4 separate regions of the Homo sapiens genome follow, and regions 1, 2 and 3 are each linked to region 4. Evidence: fine-mapped expression QTL. A gene starts in region 4. Each other region holds a variant in brackets. All regions are shown on one strand. Distances are between the middles of the regions.

Evidence for each region.
Region 1: its variant is fine-mapped to the expression of TNPO3 in whole blood (INTERVAL, PIP 0.93).
Region 2: its variant is fine-mapped to the expression of TNPO3 in whole blood (INTERVAL, PIP above 0.99).
Region 3: its variant is fine-mapped to the expression of TNPO3 in testis (GTEx, PIP 0.96).

Annotation. Positions count from the first base shown.
Region 1 is chr7:128,923,339-128,931,280 of GRCh38, forward strand. No RefSeq gene overlaps it. Among named protein-coding and RNA genes, the nearest start is that of IRF5, 11 kb to the right of the region's middle. RefSeq lists an enhancer at 5,915-6,415. The variant T/A (reference allele first, on the strand shown) is at 3,667.
Region 2 is chr7:129,079,755-129,087,696 of GRCh38, forward strand. No RefSeq gene overlaps it. Among named protein-coding and RNA genes, the nearest start is that of TNPO3, 29 kb to the left of the region's middle. The variant A/T (reference allele first, on the strand shown) is at 4,451.
Region 3 is chr7:128,931,946-128,938,004 of GRCh38, forward strand. IRF5 (interferon regulatory factor 5) reads left to right here and starts at 5,982. Exons shown (of 9, transcript NM_001098629.3): 1 at 5,982-6,059. RefSeq lists enhancers at 1,704-1,873, 2,455-2,504, 2,775-2,894, 4,310-4,604 and silencers at 3,025-3,114, 5,849-6,059. The variant C/T (reference allele first, on the strand shown) is at 3,225.
Region 4 is chr7:129,051,249-129,059,190 of GRCh38, forward strand. TNPO3 (transportin 3) reads right to left here and starts at 3,863. Exons shown (of 23, transcript NM_012470.4): 1 at 3,403-3,863. The coding sequence starts at 3,522. It also overlaps the pseudogene TPI1P2. RefSeq lists enhancers at 3,396-3,895, 4,707-5,001 and a silencer at 4,707-5,001.

The sequences.
Region 1 (7,942 bases), 130 kb before region 4:
CCAAGGGCCCTATGCTTTGGAGCAGCTCAGCACCTGTCAGCTATTCTCTTGACTCCGTTAGTAGTCAGGCCCTGAATTGCCAATATTTGCCTTCCCCGGCTGGCTGGCCAGAGGAGACATTATCTCTCAGGAGCTTGGGTCAAGACTAGCCAAGGGTCCTCTGGACAACAGCCTGTCCTCACAGCACCATAAGTCCCACCCCACTGTTTAGAGGGAAACAGGACCTTAGACAGCAGCCGAGGCCATGGAATGGCAGCTGCTGCTGCTAAGTAATATGAAGTAGGAGCGTCCAATGCAAGGGGGTAGTTAGAGGCCAGTGGATCAAAACCGCAGCTGGGGCCCTCCCAGGGCACCAGATGTCCTGGCACCCAGTGGTGATCTCAGGGCGCTCCCCTTTTTTGTAACAGCTTTATTGAGATATAAGTCACATACCATACAATTTACCCATCTAAAGTATACAATTTAATAGTTTAGGCTGGGCATAGTGGCTCATGCCTGTAATCCCAGCACTTTGGGAGGCTGAGGCGGGAGGATTACTTAAATTCAGGAGTTTGAGATCAGCCTGGGCAACATAACAAGACCCTGTCTCTACAAAAAAAGATAAATAAAACATTAGCCAGGCATAGTGGCACATGCCTGTAGTCCCAGCTACTTGGGAGGTTGAGGTAGGAGGATTGCTTGAGCCTGGGAGGTTGAGGCTGCAGTGAGCCATGATTGTACCACTGCACTCCAGCCTGGGTGACAAAGCGAGACCCTGACTCAAAAAAAAAAAGAAAAAATTCAATATATTCACAGAGTTGTGCAACCATCACCACAATCAATTTTAGAAAATTTCATCACCCCGAAAAGAAATCCTGTACCCTATCCTCTCCCAAAGCAAACCACAAATTTACATTTTTTTTTCTCTGTGGATTTGCCTATTCTGAACATTGTATTTAAACAGGATCATACAATATGTGGTCTTTCGTGTCCGACTTCTTTCATGTAGCATGTTTTCAAGGCTCGCCTAAGTTGTAGCATGTAGCAGTACTTCATTCCTTTTTATTGACAAATAATATTCCATTGCATTTATATACCATATTTTATCCATTCATCAGTTGATAGACATTTGGGTTGTTTCTCCTTTTTGGCTGTTATGAAGAATACTGCTTAAACATTCATATACAAAGTTTGTGTGGACATGTGCTTTCATCTGTAACAGGGAATAGAATTGTGGCATTATATGGTAACTCTATGTTTAAGCTTTTTTTGTCTTTTTTTTTTAAACGGAGTGTTGCTCCATCACCCAGGCTGGAGTGCAGTGGCACGATCTCAGCTCACTGCAAACTCCACCTCCCAGATTCAAACAATTCTCCTGCCTCAGCCTCCCGAGTAGCTGGGATTACAGGAGTGTGCCACCACACCCGGCTAATTTTTGTATTTTGAGTAAAGACGGGCTTTCACCATGTTGGCCAGGCTGGTCTCAAACTACTGACCTTAAGTGATCTGACTACTTCGGCCTTCCAAAGTGCTGGGATTACAGGCATGAGCCACCACGCCCGACCTCTATGTTTAAGCTTTTGAGGAACTGCCAGACTGTTTTCCAAAGTGGCTGCACTATTGCACATTTCACACACAACAGCAGTAAGTGAGGGTTCCAATTTCTCCACATTCTTGACAATACTTCTTATTATCTGTCTTTTTTGTTATAGCCATCCTGTAAGTGTGAGTGGTATTTTACTGTGGTTTCGATTTACATTTTCCTAATGAGTAATGATGTTGAGCATCTTTTCATGTACTCATTAGACACATATATTTTAATTGGAGAAGCATCTATTCAGATCCTTTGCCTACTTTTAAACTGAGCTATTTGTCTTTTTGTCTTTTTATTATTCAATTGTAACAGTTATTTATATATTCTAGATACAAGTTGCTTATCAGGCATATGGTTAGCAAATATTTTCTCCCATTCTGTCGGTTGTCTTTTCACTTTTTTTGATGGTGTCCTTTGCAGCACAAAAGTTTTTAATTTTGATGAAATCCAATTTATGTTTTATTCTTTGTTGCTTGTGCTTTTGGTGTCATTTTAAAGGAATCATTATCTGATCTAAGGTTAGGAAGATTTATCCTTATATTTACTTATAGGAGTTTTATAGTATTAGCTCTTCTATATAGGTCTTTGATCCATTTTAGTTAATTTTTATATATTGTGTGAAGTATGGCTCTGATGTTAGTTGCATGTATGTTTATAATTATCACATCTTCCTGATGGATTACACTTTTATCATTGTAAAATGTCCCTCTTTATCTTCAGTAATTAAAAAAATTTTAAATCTACTCTGTCTGACAGTAATACAGCCCCACCAGTTTTCTTATGGTTGCTGTTTGCTATATATATATGTAGGAAATAATATATATATATGAAATACATTGGAAATCAAACAAACCAGAGTAATTAACATTTTTAATTAAAGTGGATAACGATAAATCAACATTCTGTATTTTAAAAAGTAAATCATTCAAAAACTTTGGTGGTTTATTGCTGTAAGAAATTCGTTGCAAGACATTTCAGAACTGATCAGGACAAACCTCTGGGCATCAGCATAGTCACTGTGAACTACTAGTTTAGGGTAGAGTTTCTGTCTCTGCTCTACTCATCTGCCTGGAAGTTTGACTAATAAACTTCTGAGCCCCTTCATCATCATATATATATATATATATATAATTTTTAATAATTTTAATTTTTTATTTCTCTTACATTTCCCCTTGTTTATTCACAAGAATTATATATAATTAACATGTTTGTCTAAATAAATTCAAAAGGCCATTTAAATAGAAAAGTTAAAACACAGATAAAAATATTGTATTGGTTTATTTGGCAGTTTTTTTTCTTAGTGGTACATAATATTTGCATAATTACAATTGGTGACATGATGAAACATGATACAATAAATTTAAATTAATATGAAATAGTATGATACAACATTAGGACAACAGATGCCATATGACTCTGATAATACCTCCATTTACTTTCCTAAAGTTTTGCAAAAATTTTACGCTTGGTTATCACTTCAAAAGAATGGGCAAAATCTTAATGCATGGCTTCCTACCACAGCACGTCCTCCTGACTCTTGGTATCTAACTCCTTGGAGACCAGTTTTGGGGCTTCACTCTTCACCCTCCAGGGATCTATTACTTCCTTGTTAGTGCTCCTGATCAGTGTGCTGGCTCTCTCGCTCCAAAATCTATTGATCAATTGCAGGTCATTCAAGGGCTGTTCAAAGTGGAGGGGAAATATTACTTTTCAGCTTGAGTTTTGGATGCATATTTGGTTTTAGCTTTTTTTTTTTTTTTTTTTTTTTTTTGAGACAGTCTCACTCTGCCACCCAGGCTGGAGTGCAGTGGCGTGATCTCAGCCTCCTGGGTTCAAGCAATTCTTGTGCCTCAGCCTCCTGAGTAGCTGGGATTACAGGTGTGTGCCACCACGATGGTAGATATCCATTTTTTTCTACCCTCTTATTAAATCTATTTACATCTTTAAATCTAAAGTGTGCCTCCTGTAAACAGCATATTGTTGGATCTTGTTTTTATTTTGTGTGTTTTTAAATTAATTTATTTTTATTTTATTGTTATTTTTTGGAGATAAGATGTCTTTCTTTGTTGTCCAGGCTGGAGTGCTGTGGTTCA[T/A]CACGTTAGCCGTAACCTTGAACTCCTGGGCTCAAGCGATCCTCCCACTACCGCCTCCTGAGTAGCTAGGACTTACAGGTGTGTGCCACCATGCCAGGCTAATTTTTATTTCATTTTATTTTTTGTAGTGTCGGGGTCTCTTTTTGTTACCCAGGCTGAAACTCCTGGCCTCAAGCAATCCTCCTGCCTTGGACTCCCAAAGTATTGGGATTATAGGCATAAGCCACCGCAACTGGACAGATCTTATTTTTAAATTGGGTCTGACTATCTCTGCCTTTTGGTTGGATTGTTTAATCCAGTGGTGCCCAACCTTTTTGGCACCAGGGACTGGTTTCATGGAAGACAATTTTTCCACAGTGGAGGGTGGTGGTGGTGGGTGGTGGGGGGGTATGGTTTCGGGATGAAACTGTTCCACCTCAGATAATCAGGCATTAGATTCTCATAGCAGTGTGCAACCTAGATCCCTCTCATGTGCAGTTCACAATAGGGTTCCAGCTCCTATGAGAAAATGAGAATCTTTTTTTTTTTTTTTTGAGACAGAGTCTCACTTTGTCACCCAGGCTGGTGTGCAGAGGCAAGATCTTGGCTCATTGCAAACTCTGCCTCCTGGGTTCAAGCAATTCTCCTGCCTCAGCCTCCCGAGTAGCTGGGACTACAGGCACCCACCATCAGGCCCAGCTAATTTTTATATTTTTAGTAGAGATGGCGTTGTGCCATGTTGGCTAGGCTGGTCCCAACTCCTGACCTCAGGCGATCTGTCCGCCTTGGCCTCCCAAAGTGCTGGGATTACAGGTGTGAACCACTGCACCTGGCCTCCTATGAGAATCTAATGCCACCACAATCTGACAGGAGGTGGTTGCCTGCTGCTCACCTCCTGTTGTGAGGCCTGGTTCCTAAGAGGCCAGAGACGACTACCAGTCCATGGTGCAGGGGTTGGGGACCCCTGGTTTAATCCATTCACATTATCGATATACATAGTTGAATTTCCATCTGCCATTTTCTAAACATGTGATGTCTTTTTTGTTCCTCTATTTCTCCTTCAGTGCTTTTTTTTACATTAAGTGAATATTTCTAGTGGGACATTTTAATTCCTTTAATGATTTTTTTAACTACATTTTTTAGTGATTTTCATCATATTTGGTCTAGGGCTTACCTGTGGGCAGTGTACTACACTATCTTCCTGTCCCATCCAGGTAAGCTGTCCACAGCAAAGGTCCTGGGCGGAGGCCACAGCGGGAAAGTTGCCTGAAGAGCGATGCATGGCCTTGGACAAGGAAGCCCCAAGGAGGAGAACTGGGGCCTTGAGATGGCCATAGGTGGCCCCAGTGAGCAATACAGCGGCTGTAGCTTTGATGGGCATGTTTTTGGGCTGCACGGCCCTGGGAATCACCTCAGATTTATGAGTCAGAATAGATGTCCCGGCCCTAGGACAGGGGTCTGGGGTGAGGATTAAAGGGTGTGTCCTAGGGTCTGGGCACCACTGCTGTCTGGCTGCCCTGGCAACTGCCTCTGCCACCTCTGTCCCATGCCTTGAATGCCTCCCATCGTGAGCCCCTGAACTGTCCACACTCCTCTCTGCACCAGGGGCCAATAAGACTGTGGGGCAGGGCTCAGTGAGAATGGCAGCTGCCCCACCCTTCCCTTGCACATCCTAAAATGTGTCAAGGCCTGAGCTGGGACTGGCTAGCAGGCAGACAGGGGATGAAGGGCAGAGCAGGGGCATCTGATGTGGGGAGGCATCGGGAGTGGAGGCTGGTGAAATGCTCTGCCTTCTCTGGTCAGCTGAAGCCCTGCTGAGAAAGTACTGGGTCCCTATTGGAACCCACTCTCTGCACATCTGGAAATCTTTGGAAATAGACCAGAGACCAGGGTGCAGGTGTGCCATGGGACAAGGTGAAGACACAGGATCACCTACACACCAGAGTCCACCCAGTAGGACAGGGTGCCCTGCCACTCACTTAGACTTCCACAGGGGCCTGACTGAGGGCTTGAGGGGCCAGGGTTCAGCCCTTGGTTGGGGGTGGGGTGCATATTGGGAGGGAAGCTCTGCCCTTTCATCTTCACCCCAGGCCCCTGCCCCTCATCCCAGTGATGCTCAGCTTCCTGGCATCCACCACACAGTAGTGCAGGGTGCTGCCTGCCAAGCGCTGGTCCAAGGTAGAGGTGGGGGTACAGTGTCTGAGGATCCATGTGGGAGACCGCAGAGGAGAGGACCTGCCCTAGGCCTCTGACCTCCCACCCTGGCCCTCACCCCCAATCCCAGTGCTGGCTCCTGGATCCCAAAGGCTCAGAGCCCCTTGCAAGGTCTTCCCCCATGAGATCTGGGCCTCACTCCTTCTCCGCCTCTGCACCCTTGGACAGTCGAGGCTGGTGGGCCCACGTGGCCTCCACCAAACCCCTGAGTCTCCTGGGAGATATACCTGGAGCAAGAGGGGTGATTAACATACAGACCAGGACTTGCACTGGGGTATGCAGGTCAGAGAATGCACACGCACAGGTGTGCAGGTGCCCAGCTCAGCGTCAGGCCCTTCCCAGCCCTGCCAGGGGCCAGGGGGAAAGCACTCCCTCCCCCCATTAGCTGCCACCAGCCTGCCTCCCGGGGCACTCAGAACACGCACGGTCCCCGGGCCAGCTCTGCCCCTCCCACCAGGAGGTATGGGCAAGAGACAGGAGGGCGACAGAATGGAAGAAAAGGGATTTCTTCCCTCTGCCTGCAACGTTCCCAGGGCCACAGGTCCCAAAGGACGGCCCCTCTGAGGGTGGAGGTGGTTCCCAGCTGATGCTAGGCCTTGGATGCCTGGAAACTCCACAGTGGCTTTCAGAACCCTGTCTACACCTTTGCAAGTGTCCACTTCACTCAACTCTCCTCTGTCCAATATCACCTGTGTCCTGCCAGGATCCTCACCTGGAGCCACCTAGTTGGAGCGTGGGCTCTCGGCCTGGGTCCCTGGGGTAGCCAGGGAGCCTCCTGGACATCACCAAACCCCTGGAGACAGTGCTCAGTCTCCCAAGAGCTGTGGGGGAAGCAGAAGAGGGACTGGCAGGACAATTGGAGGATGGCCCAGAAGAGCCAGGCTGGAGGGAGGGAGGGAGAGTGGAGAGAAGACGGCACTACCTTGCCTCTTGGTGAAGGATGCTTCTTGGATCTGTTCTTTTTCTTTCTTTTCTATTTAAAAAAACATTACTTAGGGCCGGGTACAGTGGCTCATGCCTGTAATCCCAGCACTTTGGGAGGCCGAAGCAGGAGGATCATGAGGTCAGGAGATCAAGGCCATCCTGGCCAACATGGTGAAACCCCGTCTCTACTATAAATACAAACTTTAGCCAGGCATGGTGGTGGGTGCCTGTAGTCCCAGCTACTCGGGAGGCTGAGGCAGGAGAATTGCTTGAACCTGGGAAGCGGAGGCTGCAGTGAGCTGAGATTGTGCCACTGCACTCCAGCCTGGGTGACACGAGCAAGACTCTGTCTCAAAAAAAAAAAAAAGAAAAAAGAAAAAAAGAAAAAGGAAAAGAAAAGAAAAAAAGAAAATTACTTAAAATCTTTATTTTAGACACACTTGAAAGACTTCTTTAAAACAGTTAACATATATAAGTCTTTTGCTTAGGTACAAAGGAAAATACAAACCATATAAATTAGTTAAGCTTTTCCTAAAAAACTCCCTTTTTTTTTTTTTATACAGGTTTAAGTGATTCTCCTGCCTCAGCCTTCCAAGTAGGGTGGACTACAGGCACGCAACACCATGCCCGAGTAATTTTTTGTGTTTTTAGTAGAGACGGGTTTCACCATGTTGACCAGGCTCGTCTTAAACTCCTGACCTCGGGTGATCCACCTGCCTCAGCCTCCCAAAGTGCTGGGATTACCTGCATGAGCCACTGTGCCCAGCCAAAACTTCTTGACGTTGAGAGTTTGAATCTTCTGAATCATGAAACATTTTTAAATTTTTACATTTACATACAGTAAAATTCACTCTTTTTAGTGTACGGTTCTAGGAGTTTCGGCAAAGGTGGAGAGTTGTGTAAACACTGGCACAGTCAAGAGACAGAACCGTTCCCATCACTTCATGCCGTCCCTTAGTGGTCAGCCCTTCCCCACATCCGATCCCCTAATTTGTTCCCTGTTTCTTGATTTCTCTTGGGCCTGTTCCTGTAGTAAGGCAGCCGGGGTAGGGGGTGGCAGGCAGGCTCTTTGGGGGTCCATGATCATTCTTCTGGCACATGGGCCTCCTTCTCTACATAGACAACATGCCAGGGCCGGGGTGAGGAAGGAGGCCGCCAG
Region 2 (7,942 bases), 29 kb after region 4:
CTCAAGTAATCCTCCCAAATCCTTGGCCTCCCAAAGCGCTGGAATTACAAGTGTGAGTCACCTCGCCTGTTCTGTGTGTTAATTTATAAGGCAAAAATTTTAAAACTTCATCCAAAGGAATACAGAGCTAAGCAAAGAATTCTCAAAAAAGAAACACAAGATGGTGGTCACAAGTTTCCTCTGGGGAAGGATGCTGTAAATCAAGGAAAGTAGAAAGACATACTTTTACAGGATTATACACTTTTTACTATTTGAATCATTTATCATGCATGCATGTTACCTTTCCCTCCTGCAAAAAAAAAAAAAATTATATTGAAACACAAGAGGAACACAAGCCTTCCCCTCTTACATTCTGATGATTACAATTTTCCCCCTCTAATTACATTTGTACACTTCTATAAATGAGGCCAGCTAGGGAGAGCACCAAAATGTGCAGTGATCGGCCGGGCGCAGTGGCTCATGCCTGTAATCCCAGTACTTTGGGAGGCTGAGGCAGGCGGATCACCTGAGGTCAGGAGTTTGAGACCAGTCCGGCCAACATCATGAAACCCTGTCTCTACTAAAAATACAAAGATTAGCTAGGCGTGGTGGTGCAAGCCTGTAGTCCCAGATACTAGGGAGGCTGAGGCTGGAGAATTGCTTAAACCTGGGAAGCAGAGGTTGCAGCGAGCCGAGATGGTGCCTTTGCACTCCAGCCTGGATGACAAGAGCAAAACTCTGTCTCAAACAAACAAACAAAATGTGCAGTGATTACCTCTGAGCAATGGATTTGAAGGAGTTTTGTTTTGTTTGAAACAGGGTCTCACTCTGTCACCCAGGTTGGAGTGGAGCGGCACGATCACAGATCACTGCAGCCTCCACCTCCCTAGCTCAGGTGATACACCCACCTCAGCATCCCAAGTAGCTGGAACTACAGGCAAGCACCACCTGTAGCCAAGGCCAATTTTTGTATTTTTTGTAGAAGCAGGGTCTCAGTATGTTAATTTATAAGACAAATATTATGTTGCCCAGGCTGGTCTGGAACTCCTGGTCTCAAGCAATTCTCCTGCCTCGGCCTCCCAAAGTGCTGGGATTACAGGTGTGAGTCATTGTGCCCGGCCTTAAGGAGATTTTTACTTTCTTCTTATACTTTTCTATTTTTCTCTACCAGCATATATGATATTTATGTTTTTAAAAGCTATTTTCATTGTGGAAAAAAAAGAGAACATATTAGGGGGAAAACCACAAGCTCACAGAGGACAAAAACCATGTTTTAGTGCCTCTGGGTACTGTAAACTATCTGACATGGTACAGGTGCTGAGTATTCTACCAACTAAGACATTTTGCTTGAAAGTTATAGACAAGGTCCATCCTGGCTAACACGGTGAAACCTCGTCTCTACTAAAAAATACAAAAAAATTAGCCGGGCATGGTGGCGGGTGCCTGTAGTCCCAGCTACTTGGGATGCTGAGGCAGGAGAATGGCGTGAACCCGGGAGGCGGAGCTTGCGGTGAGCAGAGATCGCGCCACTGCACTCCAGCCTGGGCGACAGAGCGAGAATCCGTCTCAAAAAAAAAAAAAAAAAAAAAAAGTTGTAAACAAGGTGTAATTATAATGGATATTGATCGTATTTCTTTATATTAAACTCTGAATACCACAGGTGTTCACAGAATAATAATCTACTTTAGAAAGGAGTTTTACCATTTGCATTAAAAGCTTTAAGGCGAGCAAGACAGCTATGAGTTTGCTCCACTTTACAAATGAATGAGGAAACTGAGGTTTAAAGGTAGTTACTGGCAATAACAGAATTTAGACCAGTTTCTTGATACCAAACCTAATATATATTCCAAGACACTCCCACTGTCTCTTCCCAGTTCTCAAAGAACTATAATAAAATGAAAATAGCTAACTCTGACACTGTTTTCAACATATTCTTCGAACCAGCAGAGAGCTGATTGATGTCATCTAAGGGAAGTGGTTTGGAGCTGGAAAAGTCTCCTTCAGGGCAATCACCTTTTTTTTTTTTTTTTTTTTTTTTGAGATGGAGTCTGCTCTGTCGCCAGGCTGGAGTGCAGTGGCGTGATCTTGGCTCACTGCAATCTCCGCCTCCCAGGTTCAAGCGATTCCCCTGCCTCAGCCTCCCGAGTAGCTGGTACTACAGGTGCGTACCACCATACCCAGCTAATTTTTTATATTTTTAGTAGAGATGGGGTTCCACCATGTTGGCCAGGATGGTCTAGATTTCCTGACCTCGTGATCCACCCACCTCGGCCTCCCAAAGTGCTGGGATTACAGGCGTGAGCCACTGCGCCTGGCCAGGCAATCACACTTTTCAGGATCAGAACTTCCACCCTGAAGGACCACAGGTTCACCCCTGGCAATACACAGCGAGGACCAGACTCTGAGAACAGACTCACATTGGAAAAGGGACATAGGAGGCTGAGGGAGACGCCGGGCTGCCAATTCACTCATTGACCATGATAATTGGGACTGTTACAGGGTCAGCTACTTCTCCCCTACAAGTCTCTCTCTGCAGCATATTCTCTCTGGTCGGTAGGTCGCCATGAAAATGAGAAAGTTGACTGCCAAGTGGCCATGGAAAACACATGGAAATTAGACGAAGCCCCAGGGTTCAGTGGTAACAGGTGAGGCTAAGATAGCCTAGGCCAGTCATCCTATAATAGAGGTGGTCTCACCAACAGGTTACTTACTGCAGAGTACTCACATCCCATTGGTTACAACCTCCTGCCTCCACATCTCCATTATAAGTTGTTTTGTCATTTAAAGGCTGTGATTTCCTTTGTGCCCAATACATGGATGGGCAATGCCTATGTCCACCTCCCAGAAGTGTCCTCTTCCAAGAATCCATGCTAAACAATGCCCCTTCTAACAAACAGATTTTTTTCAATCTTTTAATTTAAACAATCAAATCCTAGGAGCCAGGCTTTTTTGTCACATGCTAATTATATATTGATCTTATTATTAACTTTCTATGATTAGGACGGGCACGGTGGCTCACGCCTGTAATCCTAGCACTTTGGAAGGCCAAGACAGACCGATCACTTGAGGTCAGGAGTTCGAGACCAGCCTGAACAACATGGTGAAACCCTGTCTCTACTAAAAATACAAAAATTAGCCTGGCATGGTGGTGCACGCCTGTAGTCCCAGCTACTCGGGAGGCTGAGGCACAAGAAACACTTGAACCTGGCAGGTGGAGGTTTCAGTGAGCCAAGATCGAGCCACTGCACTCCAGGCTAGGTGACACAGCGAGACTCCATCTAAAAAAAAAAAAAAAAAAATGATTGCTAATTGCCCTCTGATGTAATAATTCCCCTTCCTCTTCTTTTTTTTTTTTTTTTTTTTTGAGACGGAGTCTCACTCTGTTGCCCAGGCTGGAGTGCAGTGGCGCAATCTCAGCTCACTGCAACCTCCACCTCCAGGGTTCAAGCGATTCTCCTGTCTCAGCCTCCCAAGTAGCTGGGACTACAGGCCTGCACCACCACACCCAGCTAACCTTTTTTGTATTTTAATAGAGACGGGGTTTCATCATGTTGGCCAGGATGGTCTCATGACCTCGTGATCCACCCACCTTGGCCTCCCAAAGTGCTGGGATTATAGGCATGAGCTACCTCGTCCAGCCGGTGTTTTAGGTTTTTTCTGTTATTATCAAACTGAATTCTAACTAATATTCATGATAATTTTATTCCTCTTACTTTTAAGTTCTTGTGGTCCCAAAGTACAATAGTAAATTTAAGATTCTAGGCTGGATGTGGTGGCTCACACCTGTAATCTTAGCACTTTGGGAGGCCAAGGTGGGAGGGTCACTTGAGCCCAGGAGTTTGAGACCAGCCTGGGCAACATAGCAAGACTTCATTTCTATTAAAAAAAAGAAAAAAGAAAGATTCTGGAATGCTTCAGACTCCGTGTTATACAAGCTTTCTGACAGTGTGATGAATCAGGGAGGAGTGAGTTAACAAATTTCTGACCAGACAACTGACCGGAAAAAACAGCTTGTGGAGTGCTCAGTATATCATTTCATTCCTCAGGTTCACGTAACAAATGTTCAGAAGCTCAGAGCATATTTCATTCCCATGCGATTAATCTTACCCCCTGCACTACTTTTGTATCTCCCCTTAGTAACAGGTTCACCCTACCTTCAATGTCTACAGGAGCTACGGAAAGAAATGCAGAACGAAGATAAATCACCCACCAGAATTGTTAGCAAGAGAAGTGCTGGCAGCAATAGGTCCTCTTACAAAGAAGAAACTTAGAATGAAGCTTTTCCCAAACAGCCTGAAAGGTTCTTTTATCCTCCATAAGTAGCTGCTCACCCAATTTTTGACAAATCCTCATTTTTGCTTCAAAAATAAATAGCAAACACTTACCTATATTTACCATATGCCAGGAACTGATCTAATCATCTTACATATATTATTATTATTGAACAGCAATTTAAATTAGGTTTTTTTTT[A/T]AAGGTGGTTATTTTTATTTTTTGCAATGCCATGGTTGTAGGAGTGTATGAAGAGGTAACACATCTCCTTTTCCTTGACTATGCTTTTTTTTTTTTTAACCTTCTGCACAAAGGTAAAGGTTTTTGTTAATCTCATAGTTAATGGTATAAAACAGAGGTCATGCCGGGCGCGGTGGCTCACGCCTGTAACCCCAGCACTTTGGGAAGCCTAGGTGGGTGGATCATGAGGTCAGGAGTTCAAGACCAGCCTGGCCAAGATGGTGAAAGCCCGTCTGTACTAAAAACTACAAAAAAAATTAGCTGGGTGCGGTGGCAGGTGCCTGTAATCCCAGCTACTCGGGAGGCTGAGGCAGGAGAATTGCTTGAACCTGGGCAGCAGAGGTTGCGGTGAGCCGAGATCACGCCATTGCACTCCAGCCTGGGCAACGAGAGTGAAACTCCGTCTCAAAATAAATAAATAAATAAATAAATAAATAAATTTTAAGGGATATGGTTTGGAGGGAGCTTTCAGGGTAAAAGTATAGTGACATGACAAAGGGGAGGTGACAGAATATTGTAGAGTCCTTTGTATTCTTTCAAAATAGCTTTACTGAGATATAATTGACATACAGTAAACTACATGTTTATAGTGTAATTGGATAAGATTTGACATACATATACACCCGTGAAACCATGACCACAGTCAAGATAATGAAAATAGGCCAGGCACGGTGGTTCACAGGAATCACTTGAACCCGGCAGGTGGAGGTTGCGGTGAGCTGAGATCATGCCACCGCACTCCAGCCTGGGCGATAGAGTGAGAGGCTGTCAAAAAAAAAAAAAAGATAATAAAAATAAATATCAGCCCCCAAAAGTTTCCTTGTGTCCTCCTGTGATCCCTTCTTCCTGGAAACTTCCCCCAAACTCTCTCCTCAACCCCCCATTGTCCCTTATCTGCTTTCTGTAATTATGGATTGGTTTATATTTTCTAGAATTTTATAGGAATACAATCGTACAATATTTATTCTTTTATTTCCAGTTAACATAGCTTTTATTCAAAAGTCCTTACTCTTGTCTGGTTTATTTCACTTGGTCTAATTATTTTAAGATCTATCCACATTACTGCATGTACTTTAAGTGGGTGAGTCGTACGCTATTTGAATTATCTCTCAATAAAGCTGTTACTAAAAACAAACCACAATGAGATATCACTGCGCACCCATTCGGATGACAAAAATTTAAAAAACAGACAAAAGCAACTGTTAGTGAGGGTAGGGAGAAATTGGAACTCTCATACCCTGCTAGTGAGTGGACTTGTATAATGATGCAGCCACTTTGGAAAACAGTCTGGCAGTTTCTCAAACATTTAAACATAGAGGTATCTTTTGACCCCAAAATTTCACTCCTAAGTGTATATACCCAAGAGAAATGAGAAAATGTGTCTACACAAAAGCCAGTATATGAATGTTCATAGCAGCATTATTCCTTATTTATTATTATACATTTTTTTGAGGTGGAGTCTTGCTCTGTCGCCAGGCTGGAGTTCAGTGGCGTGATCTTGGCTCACTGCAGCCTCCGCCTCCTGGGTTCAAGTGATTCCCCTGCCTTAGCCTCCCAAGTAGCTGGGATTATAGGCATGCGCCACCACGCCTGGCTAATTTTTTGTATTTTTAGTATAGATGGGGTTTCACCATGTTGGCCAGGATGGTCTCCATCTCCTGACCTCGTGATCCGCCCACCTCGGCCTCCCAAAGTGCTGGGATTACAGGCGTAAGCCACTGCGCCCAGCCTATTATTATTATTTTTTGAGACGGAGTCTCGCTCTGTCACCCAGGCTGGAATGCAGTGGCGCGATCTCGGCTCACTGCAACCTCTGCCTCCTGGGTTCAAGTGATTCTCCTGCCTCAGCCTCCAGAGTAGCTAGGATTACAGGTGCCCACCACCACACCCAGCTAATTTTTGTATTTTGTTTAGTAGAGACAGGGTTTTACCATGTTGGCCAGGCTGGTCTCAAACTTCTGACCTCAAATGATCTGCCTGCCTTGGCCTCCCAGAGTGCTGGGATTACAGATGTGAGGCACGGCAGCTGGCCAATGGCAGCATTATTTATAATAGTCAACATGTGAAAAGAACTCCAATGTCCACCAACTGAGGAATGGATAAACAAAATGTGGTCTATCCATACAGTGAAATATTATTCAGCCATAAAAGGGAATGAAGCACTGATACGCGCCACAACACAGATTAACCTTGAAAACATTCAGCTAAGTGAAAGAAGCCAAACACACACATACCAACCCCACATATTGTATGATTCCATTTTTATTTATTTTTATTTTTATTTTTTATTTTTTCAGACAGGGTGTCACTGTCACCCAGGTTGGAGTGCAGTGGCACAATCTCAGCTCACTGCAACCTCCACCTCCCGGGTTCAAGCAATTTTTCTGCCTCAGCCTCCCAAGGAGTTGGGATCACAGGCATGCGCCACCACACCCAGCTAATTTTTGTATTTTTAGTGGAGATGGGGTTTCGCCATGTTGGCCAGGCTGGGCTTGAACTCCTGGCCTCAAGTGATCCGCCCACTTTGGCCTCCCAAAGTGCTGGGATTATAGGTGTGAGCCACCATGCCCAGCCTGATTCCATTTTTATGTGAAATGTCCAGAATTGGCAAATAGAGACAGAAAGTAGATTAGTGGTTGCCCAGGTCAGAGTGAGGGTGGCTGGGGGCAATGAAGGTGACTGCTAAAGGGTACAGAATTTCTTTGTGGGGTAATACAAATATTCTCAAATTGATTGTGATGGTGTTTGCACAACCCGTACATATACTAAAAACTACAAAATTACATATTTAAAATGGCTAATTTTTACCTATGTGAATTATATCTCAATAAAGCTGTTACTGAAAAAATGTTCACTTACTGAGGTCATTCCATTATATGAATATACTTCAGTTTGTCTAGCCATTCATTTATTGAGTCATTGGATTGGCTCCTATTTTTGGCTACTAAAAATAAAGCTGCAGACCAGTGAAGTACTCACACCTGTAATCCCAGCACTTTGGGAGGCCAAGATGGGAAGATGGCTTGAGGCCAGAAATTCGAGACCAGCCTGGGCAATATAGCAAGACCCCATCTCTACAAAAAATTTAAAAATTAGCCCAGCATGGTGGCTTGCACCTGTAATCCCAGCTACACAGGAGGCTGAGGTGGGAAGATCACTTAAGCCCAGGATTTTGAGGCTGCAGTGAGCTACGATCATGCCACTGTACTCCAACCTGAGCAACAGAGCGAGACACTATCTCTAAAAAAAATAAAATTCGGCCGGGCGCGGTGGCTCACGCCTGTAATCCCAGCACTTTGGGAGGCCGAGGCGGGCGGATCACAAGGTCAGGAGATCGAGACCATCCCGGCTAAAACGGTGAAACCCCGTCTCTACTAAAAATACAAAAAATTAGCCGGGCGTAGTGGCGGGCGCCTGTAGTCCCAGCTACTTGGGAGGCTGAGGCAGGAGAAT
Region 3 (6,059 bases), 120 kb before region 4:
CCTTTCTTCTTCCTAACTTCTCCTGCACCCCTACTCCCTAGCAACGGCCCTGGACAGGTTATCAGGGTATGTCAGTATCCCCATGGCTTTGGAGGTGCTGCTCCAGGAGAGAAAGGAGGAGGACAGGCCGGGAGACACAGAGGAGACCCGACCCTCGAGACAGGCATGGGTCGGTGGAGATGTTCCTGAATCCACAGGTCCACCGGCACACTCAGGGGCCCAGTCTGTCCGGCACAGGGGTCTGGATGGGCGTCAGAGTTCAGTTGGCTCCTGGCTTGGAGAATTGCAAAGCACCAAGGCTCCGGGACACTGGCCTAGTAAGAACCTGCCCCCAGAACCCTCTCTAATGAGGCCTGACACCCTCTTCTTCCCTGAGAGGGCTCAAGACAGGAGAGGGAGCCCTGGCCCATGGTCCCCGCCAGGGTTCTTCAGCCCCTAGGCTCTCCGCTTCCTTGAATTTCTGCTCCCAGAATCAGAGGCTACGGGAACAGGACAGACTCCTGGAGGGTGCCCCACCAAGAGCCCCCAAGGCCTGACCCATAGGGTCATAGTGTTGGCCCAGGGGTGAGCAGCTGGCAAGAGCCAAACACCAGGCCCTGCAACTCTGTGCAGCTGCCAGCCCCCAAGTGCTCCCTCTCCTTCCTGCCTCACACCTGAAATTCTCAACTTGCAACGCACCCCCACACCCTACCCGTCAGGGGCCAGAGAGGGACAGCCGGGATATGCCTCCTCATGGTTGAGTGTCGAGAGGCCACACGAGAGGAACGTCATACCCCACACCCCTCCCATGACCTAATACATCAGCGACTGCAGGCCAGAGAGTATTGGGGTCAGCCCTGGAGGGGTCCCCCACAGAGGGTAGCTCTGTCACCTCCCCACCACTCTGAGGAGAGCACCCCATGCCCTTGGGCTGGCCCTGCCATCCTGGAGAGAATCTAGTCTCTCCCCGTTTCCCATCTGAGCCCACCTGGGAGGGACCACCATCCTGCCCAGGAGCAGCCCTAGCCTTGGTTCTAAGCTGCAGAGGCTTGAGATGGATCTGGTTCAGAAATGCTTCAGAGTCTGAGGCTGGTGGCCCCCTTTACCCCACATCAAAGACGGGTGGACCTCGTGGGCCTGGCTGGGACATCTGCAGATGCTGAGCTTCAACAAGGCTCATTCTGGGACAAAAGTGCATACCGGAGGTCTTTGGCTGGTGCCTGTGGGGCTGGATTGGCATCTGTCCCCACAAAGCAGTGGCCCTAGAAGGCTGGGGTCTCCAGCTAGACTTTGTCCTTTTCCCTTTCCTCCTTGTCCAGGTGCCTCATGCTCCACAGCGAGCCCTCGAGACATGCAGGAAGGATGGATGTCCCACCCCTTCCGTAACAGAGCCCAGGAGCAGGGAAGGAAGTGGTTTGAGCACAGTGCTGAGCTAAGCAAGTTTTAGAAGCACTGAATCAGACCACGTGCAGCCAGTAGGGGAGGAGAGAAACTCTGGGCCGGTGTCCTGGAGGCCCGCGGGGGACAGGGGCACAGAGGCGCAGACTCAGGATGCTGAGCTGGGAGAGGAATCCCGGAGGAAAGTGAGAGGGCTTCAGCACGTTTATTTAAAGGGGATGGTGAGAAATCTAGGAAAGAGTGAAATCCCAAGATCTGAGGGTTTAAGTGAGAGAGGTAGGTAGAGACTGGAGTTTTGGGGGAGTTCCCGTGGGTTTCAGGGCTTGCTTGAGCTGTGGATCCAAGGCCTGGAGGACAGGGTGGGGCCAGAACAGATTCCACCGACAAGGGCAGGAGCCAGGTTGCAGGCATCAGAGAGGACAGGTGACCTGTCGGGGCCTGGAGCAAGGGCCCGGGCAGCTTCCTCCACAGGCCATGTGAAGACAGAGCCATGGATTGGGAAAGGTGGAGACTCCGAGTGTAGAGGTGTCCATGTAACAGTGCTGGCTGAATGGGGGACTTCCAGGTCACACCCCAAAAAGCTCTGAGCCGGTGTTAGTAAGAAATGGGGAGGAAGGCCCAGCTGTGGCGCCCTGGGCATTAATCCTAAAAAAAAAGATACTACTTCTATGTGCCAGAAACTTCAAAGCAAGTGAACACTTCAAGTACGAGAACCAGAGGTGTTTTTTTGTTTTTTCTTTTTTCTTTTGAGACGGAGTATCGCTCTGTCACCCAGGCTGGAGTGCAATGGTGCAATCTCGGCTCACTACAACCTCCGCCTTCTGGGTTCAAGCAATTTTCCTGCCTCAGCTTCCCGAGTAGCTGGGATTACAAGTATGAACCACCACGCCTGGCTAACTTTTGTATTTTTTTTTTTTTAGTAGAGACGGGGTTTCCCCATGTTGGCCAGGCTGGTCTCGATCTCCTGACCTCAGGTCATCCACCTGCCTCAGCCTCCCAAAGTGCTGGGATTACAGGCGTGAGCCACCCCACCCGGCCAAGAGGTGTTAAAATCTAAATCAGACTATGTCATGCCTCAGATCTGAACCTTTCAGTGACTGTCCCTAGCAAAGCCATAGCCTGTGAGGTGCCCCTCAAGGCCTCACCCGATTTCATTACTTGAGGATTTATCGTCTATCTTACTCTGCAGAATGGAAGCTCCAGGAGGGCAGGGGTTTTTAGACAAAGTAGAAATTGTCCACCACTTTATCCTGGCAGGTACAACATGCCCGATAAGCATTGTTGAATGTAGACTCACAGCCAATTCGTGACACTGGTGTCACCATTCTCCTTTACAGATGGGAAATGGGGCTTCTGGGGGAGTGAATGGCTTGCTTAGGTCACGCAATTCTAGATTGCAGAGTGAGGATTTGACTCAGACCTGTTGACCTCAGAGCCTGATGTCCAGCCAACAAGTTCTCAGAAACTCGGGGTTTCTGAGAAATAGGACAGTCAGCCTGGGGACCCCTGAGAGCCCAGGCCGAGGGGGTGGGTTTCCTGGGGTAGAGGTTTTGAGAGGCAAAGGCAGTTGTCATCAACCCAGGCTGCACTGAAGGGGGCTGTTCCAGAGCCAGGGTGCATTGTTCAGCTGCCCAGTGGGCCTCTGGGTTTCTTTCAGTTCCCTTTGGTGACACGGCTTCCCTCCTCCCCCCTGCTCCCCACCCCAGCCACCCCACTCTACACTCGCTCACACAGCGTAGCTTCTACTCGAGTCAGGGGAGGGTGCCTCCTACCACACCCTCAGTCTGTGATATTCCAGCCAGGGGAAATGGGGGAAGGGGCCATCTCACTGTGGGGAGTGGGGGGCC[C/T]GGACAGACCTCCCTGTCCCCACCGCCTCCTGGCCCATCAAGGGGAAATGGGAGTGCTCACACAAGGGCCGGGTGTGGCTTCACTTCCCCTCTACTTGCCCTTCCACCCCCAGGATGGCACTGGGAGGCCAAGGGATCCCAGATCCTGGAAACACTGGAGTGCTGCTCTCTGTCCTTCCTTTCTCCTGGGCCATGTCTCTGGCCCCAGATGATTCTTGGCTCAGGTTCTTTCAGTTGAGGGAAGTCAGGATCTGAGCCAAGCTGAGCCCCTGCATAGCCTCTATCCCGGGAGCCCCATATCAATGCTGCCGGCTTGGTAACATCATCCCCCTTTTAGAGACGAGGAAATGAGATTTGAGGTCCTACTTAAGGCCACTTGGCTGGAATACAGCAAAGCCAGGTGCAAGCCCCTTCTCTGCACGCAGCCCGTGCTGCTTCTTGAGGTTCAGAGGCTCTAAGGAAGGGGCCTCACCTGAGCAAGATGGACAGTGGGAAGGGGGCAGAGGGCAGAATTCTAGGGTCTCACGGTCCCTCAGAATGGGTGAGGAGTATTTGATAACAAAAGAAGGCTCTTCTTAGCTATTGCTCCAGATACGACCAGCATAGAATATTTTTCTATTAAGCATAACTGACCTCCAGTGAAAAAGGTTCCCATTTTGTGGGGAGCCACTTTTGAAATAGCAATTTCATTTTATTATTATTATTTTGAGATAAGATCTCACTTCTACGCCCAGGCTGGAGTGCGGTGGTGTGCCTCCTGGGTTCAAGCAATTCTCCCACCTCAGCCTCCCAAGTAGGTGGAACTATAGGTGTGTGTCACCACGCCAGGCTAATTTTTGTATTTTTTGTAGAGACAAGGTTTTGCCATATTGCCCAGGCTGGTCTCGAACTCTTGGACTCAAGTGATCTGCCTGCCTTAGCCTCTCAAAGTGTTGGGATTACAAATGTGAGCCACCGTGCCTGGCCTAGCAATTTCATTTTTAAAGAAAGAAATATAAAACGATCTACCCATTCACATTTTCCCCATCCATACTTTAAATTTTAAAAATATGAAATAATGAAATACTCAGCAGATACAAATAATAAAATACTTATATATAATGATATTTCGACTTCATATTAGGGCTTCAAAGGTCAGGAAAGAGGGAGAGATACAGAAGAGAAAAAAAAAAAACGTTAACACATGAGTGTCTTTTTTTAACTTGTTAAAGGTAAAGTTCAACCCAGGAGAAGGGAGGGGAGGGAAGGTCAAAGTTCTGATTCATCAACAAATACTACTTTATTTGTTAAAAATACAAGGCTCTGCTTGGCGCAGTGGCTCCCGCCTGTAATCCCAGCACTTTGGGAGGCCAAGGCGGGTGGATCGCCTGAGGTCAGGAGCTCGAGACCAGCCTGGCCAACATGGTGAAACCCCGTCTCTACTTGGGAGGCTGAGGCAGGAGAATCGCTTGAACTGGGGAGGCAGAGGTTGCAGTGAGCTGAGATCGCACTGCTGCACTCCAGCCCGGGTGACAGAGCAAGACTCCATATCAAAAAATAAAATAAAATAAAATGAACAATGAAAAGACAGGAGGGAGGTTCCTGAGTAAGCTGATTCGAGTGGAAATCAGACATCAAAATTGAAACCCGCTGAATTTTCCAAAAAGCCAGATGCTCATAGAACTGAAGCTTGAGACACTTACATCAGTACACCTGCTGCCTGTTGACCAATTCCTCTTCCTTGTCCCTCCTGTTTTCCTTCCCTGCTATATAAGCCCCTAACTTTAGTCAAGGGGAGGGATGGATTGGAGGTTTGTCTCCCCTCTCAACAGCTCACTGGCTGATGTCACCGGAATAAAGTCTTCCCTGGCAATACTCGCTGTCTCAGTGATAGGCTTTCTGTGCGGTGAGCAGCCAGACCTGGACCAAACCCCTGGCAATCCATAACAAAATCATAAGCAAAATCAACCAGGAAGCTATTTGCACCCTGGAACCCCACCTGGGAGGGGAAGTCAAGGCAGACTTTCCAGAGAAGGCGATGCTGAAAATTTCAGAAACAGAAATTTTGAAGAGCAAGAGTTACCAAGCGAAGAACATTCCATGAGAAGGAACAGGAGGTGTGTGAAGGTGGAGGTTCTGGGGTGAGGTTCTTTATGGAATCGAAAACGGTTCAGAACCACAGGTCGACGGTCAAGGTAGTAGTGAGAGGAGGTGGGACAGGCGACCACGCCGCTGCCCCTGGGATGACTGGAAGGCGACTTAGGGGAGCTGGGGCGAGACAGGTGCAGGGTTTGAGGATGAGAAAGGCACAGAGTGACTAGAGGATTCCCGCCTGCAAGCACATCTGGAAGGGGTGTCTGGATCCTGGGGGCAGCGACTGTGTTCTAGGGCGAGAGCCACCCTCGCCAGGGGTGTAGGCAGGCGAGAGGAGGGCCTGGAGCTGTGGGTCGGCCACACTGCGCCCTCATTTGTGTGCAGCCCCGGAGGACCAGAGTGGGGAAGCACCCCACCCTCTCCCAGGGCCCAACTGAGCACTGCAGCGGGAGGTACGGGGTTGTCAAATGACAGTTTTGCCATTCCAGATTGCCAAAAGAGCCAGTGGCCAGTCTAGGGCACCGCGCCGTCTGGCATCTCCCTGGAGGCCCTGGGCCTGGCCCGAGGCTCAGCCCGGATCTGCAGTTGCCAGGTCAGTGCGGGGCCCGGAGTGGATTCGCGGGGCGGGGCGGGGCACTGCCCGCGCCCGGAGCTCAGCAGCAGCTGCCCAGGGGCGGGGGCGGCAAGACGCGGAAGTGCCCGGCAGGTTGGCGGACCGGCGGGAGGCGCAGCCTGGGCAGAGCTCAGCTTGGTCCCGCCGCC
Region 4 (7,942 bases):
CAAAAAAAACTAGGTGACATTATTTGATATTTTTGAGCCAGCAAACTGGAAAACAGTGGGTTATGATCACAGCAGAATGTCTGAATCAGTGATTTGGAGGTGTGGTGACTTTTTTTTTTTTTTTGTACAATCTTGCTGTTTCCCAGGCTAGAGTGCAGTAGCGAAATCATAGCTCACTCAGTCTTGAACTCCTGGGCTCAAGGGATCCTCCTGAGTAGCTGGGACTATAGGCAAATGTCACCACACCCAACTAATTTTCCTATTTTTTTGTAGAAATGAGGTCTCGCTATGTTGCCCAGGCTGGTCTTGAACTCCTGGGCTCAAGGGATCCTCCACCTTGGACTCCCAAAGTGCTGGGATTACAGGCAAGAGCCAATGGGCCTGGCCTGGCTGGCAACTTTTTTGTTTTTTTTGAAATGGAGTCGCGCTCTGTCGCCCAGGCTGGAGTGCAGTGACACAATATCAGCTCACTGCAACCTCCACCTCCTGGGTTCAAGAGATTCTCCTGCCTCAGCCTCCTGAGTAGCAGAGACTACAGGTGCGCACCACCACGCCCAGCTAATTTTTGTATTTTTAGTAGAAACGGGTTTTCACCATGTTGGCCAGGCTGGTCTCAAACCCCTGACCTCAAGCGATCCGCCCGCCTCAGCCTCCCAAAGTGTTGGGATTACAGGCGTGAGCCACTGCACGCCCAGCCTGGGTGGTGGCTTTTTAGTAAAGACAAGATCCAGGGTGTGATTGTGTGACCAGGTGGCTAAAGAGAATGAAGAGGTAAAGGAATCAGAAGGCCAAAGTGTTAGCTGAACTGTCAATCCAGATGCTGAAGTTGCCTAAACGTGATGTGTTACTGCTGGATATTTTCCAGATCCACTTTTCCACCCTCCTCTATCATGTTTTCTGCTCCAATAGGCTGACCTGTATAGACTTTACCAACAGGTCACTGTGCCCCTGGCTTCCGGTTGGGTTTGGCCAATGGGGAATCCCAGCAAGAAATTAAGAGAACAGGGTCAGGATATTCATTCCTCCAGCTTCATTCTCTCAAGGTCACCTGAAACTAGCTATGTCCCTTCGGCTGAAAGTCACCATTCCTCTCAAGGCAGCCAACTCCATACTTTTCAAGTAACTATTCCCTCTTTTATGGGATGTTAACCGTTCAGCTATAGGTTACCAAACTATTTCTTGTCACACCACTATACCTAAATCTTTATAATAGTATCTTTATAAAATAAACTCAGATTATCCTGTCAAGTGTGCCATCTGTTCCTGTCTGGACTCTGACTATTAACTGTGATGGTGAAGATGATGTAAGGTTGTAATAGAGTATTGGAAAGTAAGGAGAGAAAAGTGACTAATACTTAAATAACAATTGCTAACATTTTAATCTCTATGTTCCAAGAACTTTTCTAACCTCTTCGTAGAATATTAACTCATTTAATCACAACTACCTTCTGTGGTAAGCAGAGATTTTTGTCTGGTTCATTTCCAAATCCAAACACCCAGCATAGTTGCTGGCACATGGTAAGCACTCAAATATTGATTTAAAATACACACAACAAGCAGGTTTAATTAGAAAGAGATTACTTTTTTAGTATAGTGTAGCACTTCTCCTAATTACACTTTAGAAAACTATACAAAGATCAGGGAATTGTTGACTCTCCAGAGATCACAGAAACACTAAATGAGACCATATGTGAATGATTTTCTTGTGTAGCCTACAGTGAGTCGTATTCCTTTATTTTCTGAAGAGGACTTGGGTGCCAGTTTTTTAGGTTTAATATTCAAAGTCAAAGTTGCAGCGGGGGGCGATGGCTCACATCTATAATCCCAGCACTTTGGGAGGCCGAGGCGGGCGGATCACCTGAGGTCGGAGTTAGAGACCAGCCTGGCCAACATGGCGAAACCCCGTTTCTACTAAAAAATACAAAAATTAGCTGGGTGTGGTGGCGTGTGCCTGTAATCCCAGCTACTCAGGAGGCTGAGACAGGAGAATCACTTGAACCTGGGAGGAGGAGGTTGCAGTGTGCCGAGATAGCACCACTGCACTCCTCCAGCCTGGGCAACAGAGCCAGACTCTGTCTCAAGAAAAAAAAAAAAAAATTAGTCGGGTGTCAGGGCAGGCACCTGTAATCCCAGCTACTCGGGAGGCTGAGGCAGGAGAATCTCTTGAACCCGGGAGGAGGAGGTTGCAGTGAGCTGAGATGGGACCACTGCACTCCAGCCTGGGCGACAAAGCGAGACTCTGTCTCAAAAAAAAAAAAAAAAAAAAGGCAAAGTTGCTCCATACCAAGACCAGATTTTTAAAAAGTCAAAGTTGCAAATTTTTAAATATTATGCACTTGCAGCCTAGGAGCTGATTTAATAAGGCAGAGCACCTTTAAGTATCAGTTATGAGTTAAAATAAAGGGAAGGGGGCCAAAAAAAATATGGTTGTGAGTATAAAATGCAAAAATAAAGGTAAAGGTGAGTATTTTGTCAGCCTGTAAAAAAAGCCTCTTTAGTTTTCAAAGTACTTAATTTTTAAAGTACATCCTACATTAGAACCTAAGTCAGCCAGATAACCAAGAATACACATTTACACAGAAATGAAGCACAGCAAAGGTGTGAAAATTAGGGCAGGAAGCATAAAACATGAATCAAAGAATGCAGAAATACAACAGATATAAGCTACAATTAAATATCTCACCGGATGCACACACAGTTTTATATGGAATAATCAAAGCAGCAGTGATACCCATCTTATAAATAAAAATCTAAAAGCCAGAGAAATAACAAGGTTAGAGGATTAATATGAAACAAAATGAGAACTCCAAAGATTTTCTGAAAGCAGAATTACTGTTTTTTCTTCATATTATGTTGCCACTCCAAAGCAAGGGGAAAACTCGCATGAGTAAGAATCTAGAAACCTGAGAAGTTTCGAGAAGAACAGACTCAAACTGGAGTGAAAATAGGCAAAAAGAGTGAGGCATAAGGCTACGACTGGGAGCAAAATGCCAGATGCAAGTCTTGGACACGGAGGGGAGACGAATAAAGCCTTCTTAAGCGGAAGGTGGAGAAACACTGGGGTTGGATTTGGTGGGAGGAAGACAAAACGGAAAAGCACGGCCCAAGAAGCAACGGCAAAGGGAGAACTTAAACAAGATTAGATTGATGCCACAATCGAAGAGTATAAGACCTACAAATCAGATTCTGCCGGGTGGGGAAAGGGCCAGTTCGCGACCGATCAGGTGCGACTAGTTTCCCAAAAGCGGCAAAGATGTAGCTTCGCAGCCCCACCCCACGACAGCAGCTCCTCCCCAAGGAGGACCTCACGAGGTCAACTGCCGGGCTCAGGTTCTCCCCCGGAGCCTAGGTTCCACCCCGCCCCGGCCGTGCGGCACAGAACTGCCTCTCTGGGCCCCTCACCGAACGCTGCAGCTCCCCAAGCCAAAAAGAGGCGCGCTCCTTTCCGCTGGGATCTGGGTCGTGGTAAAGCGCCTGCACTGCCTGGTACACGAGCTGCAATGTCGGCTTTGCTCCTTCCATGGTGGTGGCGGTAGTGGCGGTAGCGACGGCTCTGATTCTTCTCCGGAGGATTCCTCGGTTGCTCCGCCTTCGCGCTTCCTCACTGTCTGGGCCACGGCCGCTCCCTGACTGGCGCCATCTCCTCCTCTTTGGCCGTTACCAGGGCAGAAGGCTCTCCGTGGAAGTTGCCCCCTCGGAAACAGCTATTAGGTCGTATTCAGGTTCCTGGCCTTTTTTCCGGTTTTTCCACTTGATTCTAGACTCTTGAGTCCACAGATTCTGGCGCTCCCGTCTTCAGTCGCTGACTTGCCCTCAGAAGCCTATCTTGGGAGGCCACACACCAGTGTACCTAAGGTTCGTTTACCCGGACCGGAAGCGACAGCACCGATACCTTTGGCACACTTCCGCCTGGTACACTACAAACGGCCTCCTTCCCGGCACGCCTCCTCTTGTCTCCCCGCCCCCTCCCGGAAGTAACCCTGCCGGGCCAGGAGCCGGGAAGAAGAGCCGGTGTTCTCTCTGTTCCTCGCTAGCAGCTTGGGACATTAGCGCCGAGATGTGCCCCATATCTGAGCTGCCTTCAGCTCCTTGGAAACGGATCCAGGTTTTTCCTACCCCTTCCGACTGCCCCATCCCTCTCCAGAGAATCCTTTTCTGCCCTGGTGATCAAGGCGCGTCAATTCAACTCTCCCTAGAGTGGCCACAGTACTGGAGATCCAAAGATGACTTAAGACATGGTACCTACGCTGGCTCTAGTGGAGGAGACAGACACGTAGTCAACTGAACTATTTTACAAACCTGAAATATGTGCCACATTGAGATAAATCCAAAATGCCTAGAATCTTTGTTCAGCTCCCCTTTACTTAGTTCTTAAGCCCAAAAGAGGTCTTCATTCTGCTTACAGCTCCTGGTGCTCTAACTCCAGAGCATTTTGCATACATCTTTAGGGTTATTCTCACATTGAACTGTATTTTTGTGAATGCCTTTCTGTCCGAATCCAATACCAGTGGTCTAACAATTCACAAAAGAAAACAGAAATATTGGAAACTGTACTATGGAGAAATTAGGGACAAAAGGTAACAGTATATTGATATTAACATTGCTGCTAGTCCTTTGCACTAGTAAATAACTGCTATTTGATAAATGATCACAATGTGTAAAACACTGTAGTTACAAGATCTCATTTAATCCGCCTAACAACCTTGCCAAGTATTAATAAAACCCGTTTTAGGCGCTGACACTGACCTACAGCGCCTCAGCTCCAGCGCCATGGCGCCCTCCAGGAAGTTCTTCGTGGGGAGGAACTGGAAGATGAACGGGCGGAAGAAATGTCTGGGGGAGCTCATCGGCACTCAGAACGCGGCCACTGTGCCTGCCGACACCAAGGTGATTTGTGCTCTCGCCACTGCGTATAACGAGTTGGCCCGGCAGAAGCTAGCTCCCAAGATTGCTGTGGCTCCGCAGAACTGCTACAAAGTGACTAATGGGGCCTTTACTGGGGAGATCAGCCCTGGCATGGTCAAAGACTTAGGAGTCACGTGGGTGGTGTGGTCCTGGGGCACTCAGAAGGCGTGTCTTTGGGGAGTCAGATGAGCTGATTGGGCAGAAAAGTGGCCCATGCTCTGGCAGAGAGACTCGGAGTAATCGCCTGCATTGGGGAGAAGCTAGATGAAAGGGAAGCTGGCATCACTGAGAAGGTTGTTTTTGAGCAGACAAAGGTCATCGCAGATAATGTGAAGGACTGGAGCAAGGTCATCTTGGCCTATGATCCCGTGTGGGCCACTGGTACTGGCAAGACTGCAACACCCCAACAGGCCCAGGAGGTACACAAGAAGCTCCGAGGATGGCTTAAGTCCAACATCTCTGATGCAGTGGCTCAGAGCACTGGTATCATTTATGGAGGCTCTGTGACCAAGGCAACCTGCAAGGAGCTGGCCAGCCAGCCTGACGTGGCTGCCTTCCTCATGAGTGGTGTTTCCCTCAAGCCCGAATTCGTAGACATCATCAATGCCAAACAATGAGCCCCATCCGTCTTCCCTACCCTTCCTGCCAACCCAGGAACTAAGCAGCCCAGAAGCTGAGTGACTGCCCCTCCCCTGCACATGCTTCTGATGGTGTCATCTGCACCCTATTGTGGCCTCATCCAAACTGTATCTTCCTTTACTATGTATACCTTCACCGTGTAATGGTCGGGACCAGACCAATCCCTTCTCCACTTACTGTAATTGTTGGAACTAAATGTCACCAATGTGGCTTCTCCTTGGCTGAGAGGTGAAAGGGATGGAATTTGCTCCTGGGTCCCCTAGGCCCTAGTGAGGGGAGGAGAGAGAACCCATCCTCTCCCTTCTTACACTGTGAGGCCAAGCAGAAGCCAGGGGTGCTGCCCTCTCCCACGGTGCCAACGCCTTTGTGTGTTGTGTATGTGAGCCATCCCACATGTGAGGGAAATAAACCCCTGGCACTTAAAAAACAAACAAAAAAACGCATTTTAAAGAAAGAAAAATAGTAATGTAATTTGCCCAAGGATACAGTTCTTAAAGTTAGGATTTGAATCCAGATCAGTGTTGCTCCAAAACCTGTTAAATCACACAATCCCTATCATCTTGTGCATTCGTTTGCTTCTGAATTGTTAGTCAAGGAATTTTTAACTGCCAACAACATGATGAAAACAATGTTACTGCACAGAGTTGATACAATTTTAGACAGAAAAAAGAAACTTGATATTTTGGTTACCTAATCCATTCATTCATTAAAAAAAAATTTAGTGCTGGGCTTGGTGGCTCACAACTGTGTAATCCCGGCATTTTGGGAGGCCGAGGCAAGAGGATTACCTTTGAGGCCAGGAGTTCAAGACCATCCTGGGTAATGAAATGAGACTCCATCTCTACAAAAAAAAATGCAAAAAAATTAGCAGGGCATGGTGGTGGGTGCTTCTAATCCCAGCTACTCAGGAGGCTGAGGTGGGAGTATTGCTTTAGCCCAGGAGGTGGGGGTTGCAGTGAGCAGAGATTGTGCCACTGCACTCCAGCCTGGGAAACAGTGAGACCATATCTCAAAACAAATTTTTTTGTGTGTATCAAAGGACACTATCAAGAAAGTGAAGTAACAGTCCACAACATGGAAGGGAATGTGCAAATAACATATCTGATAACTGATTAGTATCCAGAGTATATAAAGAACTCTTACAATTCAACAATGAAAAGACAACTCAGTTTTTGGGTTTGTTTTGTGTGTGTGTGTGTGTGTGTGTGTGTTTTGTTTTTTTGTTTTGAGTTGGAGTCTTGCTCTGTTGCCCAGGCTAGAGTACAATGGCACAATCTCAGCTCACTGAAACCTCCACCTCCTGGGTTCAAGCGATTCTTGTACCTCATCCTCCCACGTAGTTGGGATTACAGGTGCCCACAACCATGCCTGGCTGATTTTTGTATTTTTAGTAGAAACAGGGCTTCACCACGTTGGCCAGGTTGGTCTCGAACTCCTGACCTCAAGTGATCCACCCGCCTCAGCCTTTCAAAGTGCTGGAATTACAGGCGTAAGCCACCATGTCTGGCCTCAGATAATTCAGTTTTTTAAATGGGCAGTGAATTTGAATAGACATTTCTTCCAAGAAGATATACAAATGCACATGAAAAGATGCTCATCATTAGCCCTCAGGGAAATACAAATCAAAACTGCAATGAGATACAACTTCACACCCACTAGAAAAACTAAAATTTAAAAAATGATAAATGCTGGTGAGAATGTGGACAAATCAGAACTCTCATGCACTATTCATGGGATTGTATCATGGTGCGGCCATGTTGAAAAAGTTTGGCAGCTCTTCAAAAAAATGTTAAACATAGAATTATCATATGAACCAGCAGTTCTACACTTAGGTATATACTCAAGAGAAATGATAACGTGTGTGCATACAAGCACTTGCACGTGCATATTCATAGCAGCATTATTCATAATAGACGGCAGAAACAGCCCCAATATCCGTCATTTGATGCATGGATAAACAAAGTGTGCTATATCCATACAATGAAAGGTTATTTGACCCTTAAAAGGAATGAAGTACAGATAGATGCTACAATATAGATAAACTTGAAAAATTATGCTAAGTGAAAGTGGCCAGACACAAAAGGCACATTAATTACGCGATTCTATTTACATAAAATGTTCAGAGTAGGCAAAATTCTAAATATAGACAGTAGATTGGTCATTTCCAGGGTTGGTTTTTTGTTTTGGGTTTTGTTTTTTTTTGTATTGATGGAAATAAATGCTCTGGAATTATTGACGATGTTCAGAAAAACCTCATGAATATATTAAAAACCACTGGCATATGTTTTTTATATGTTTTAAAAGGATGAGTTTTATGGCAATGTGAACTATATTTCAATAAAACTTATTTTTAAAAGTTCTATGGTTAGGAATTATTAAAACACCACATGGATATTTA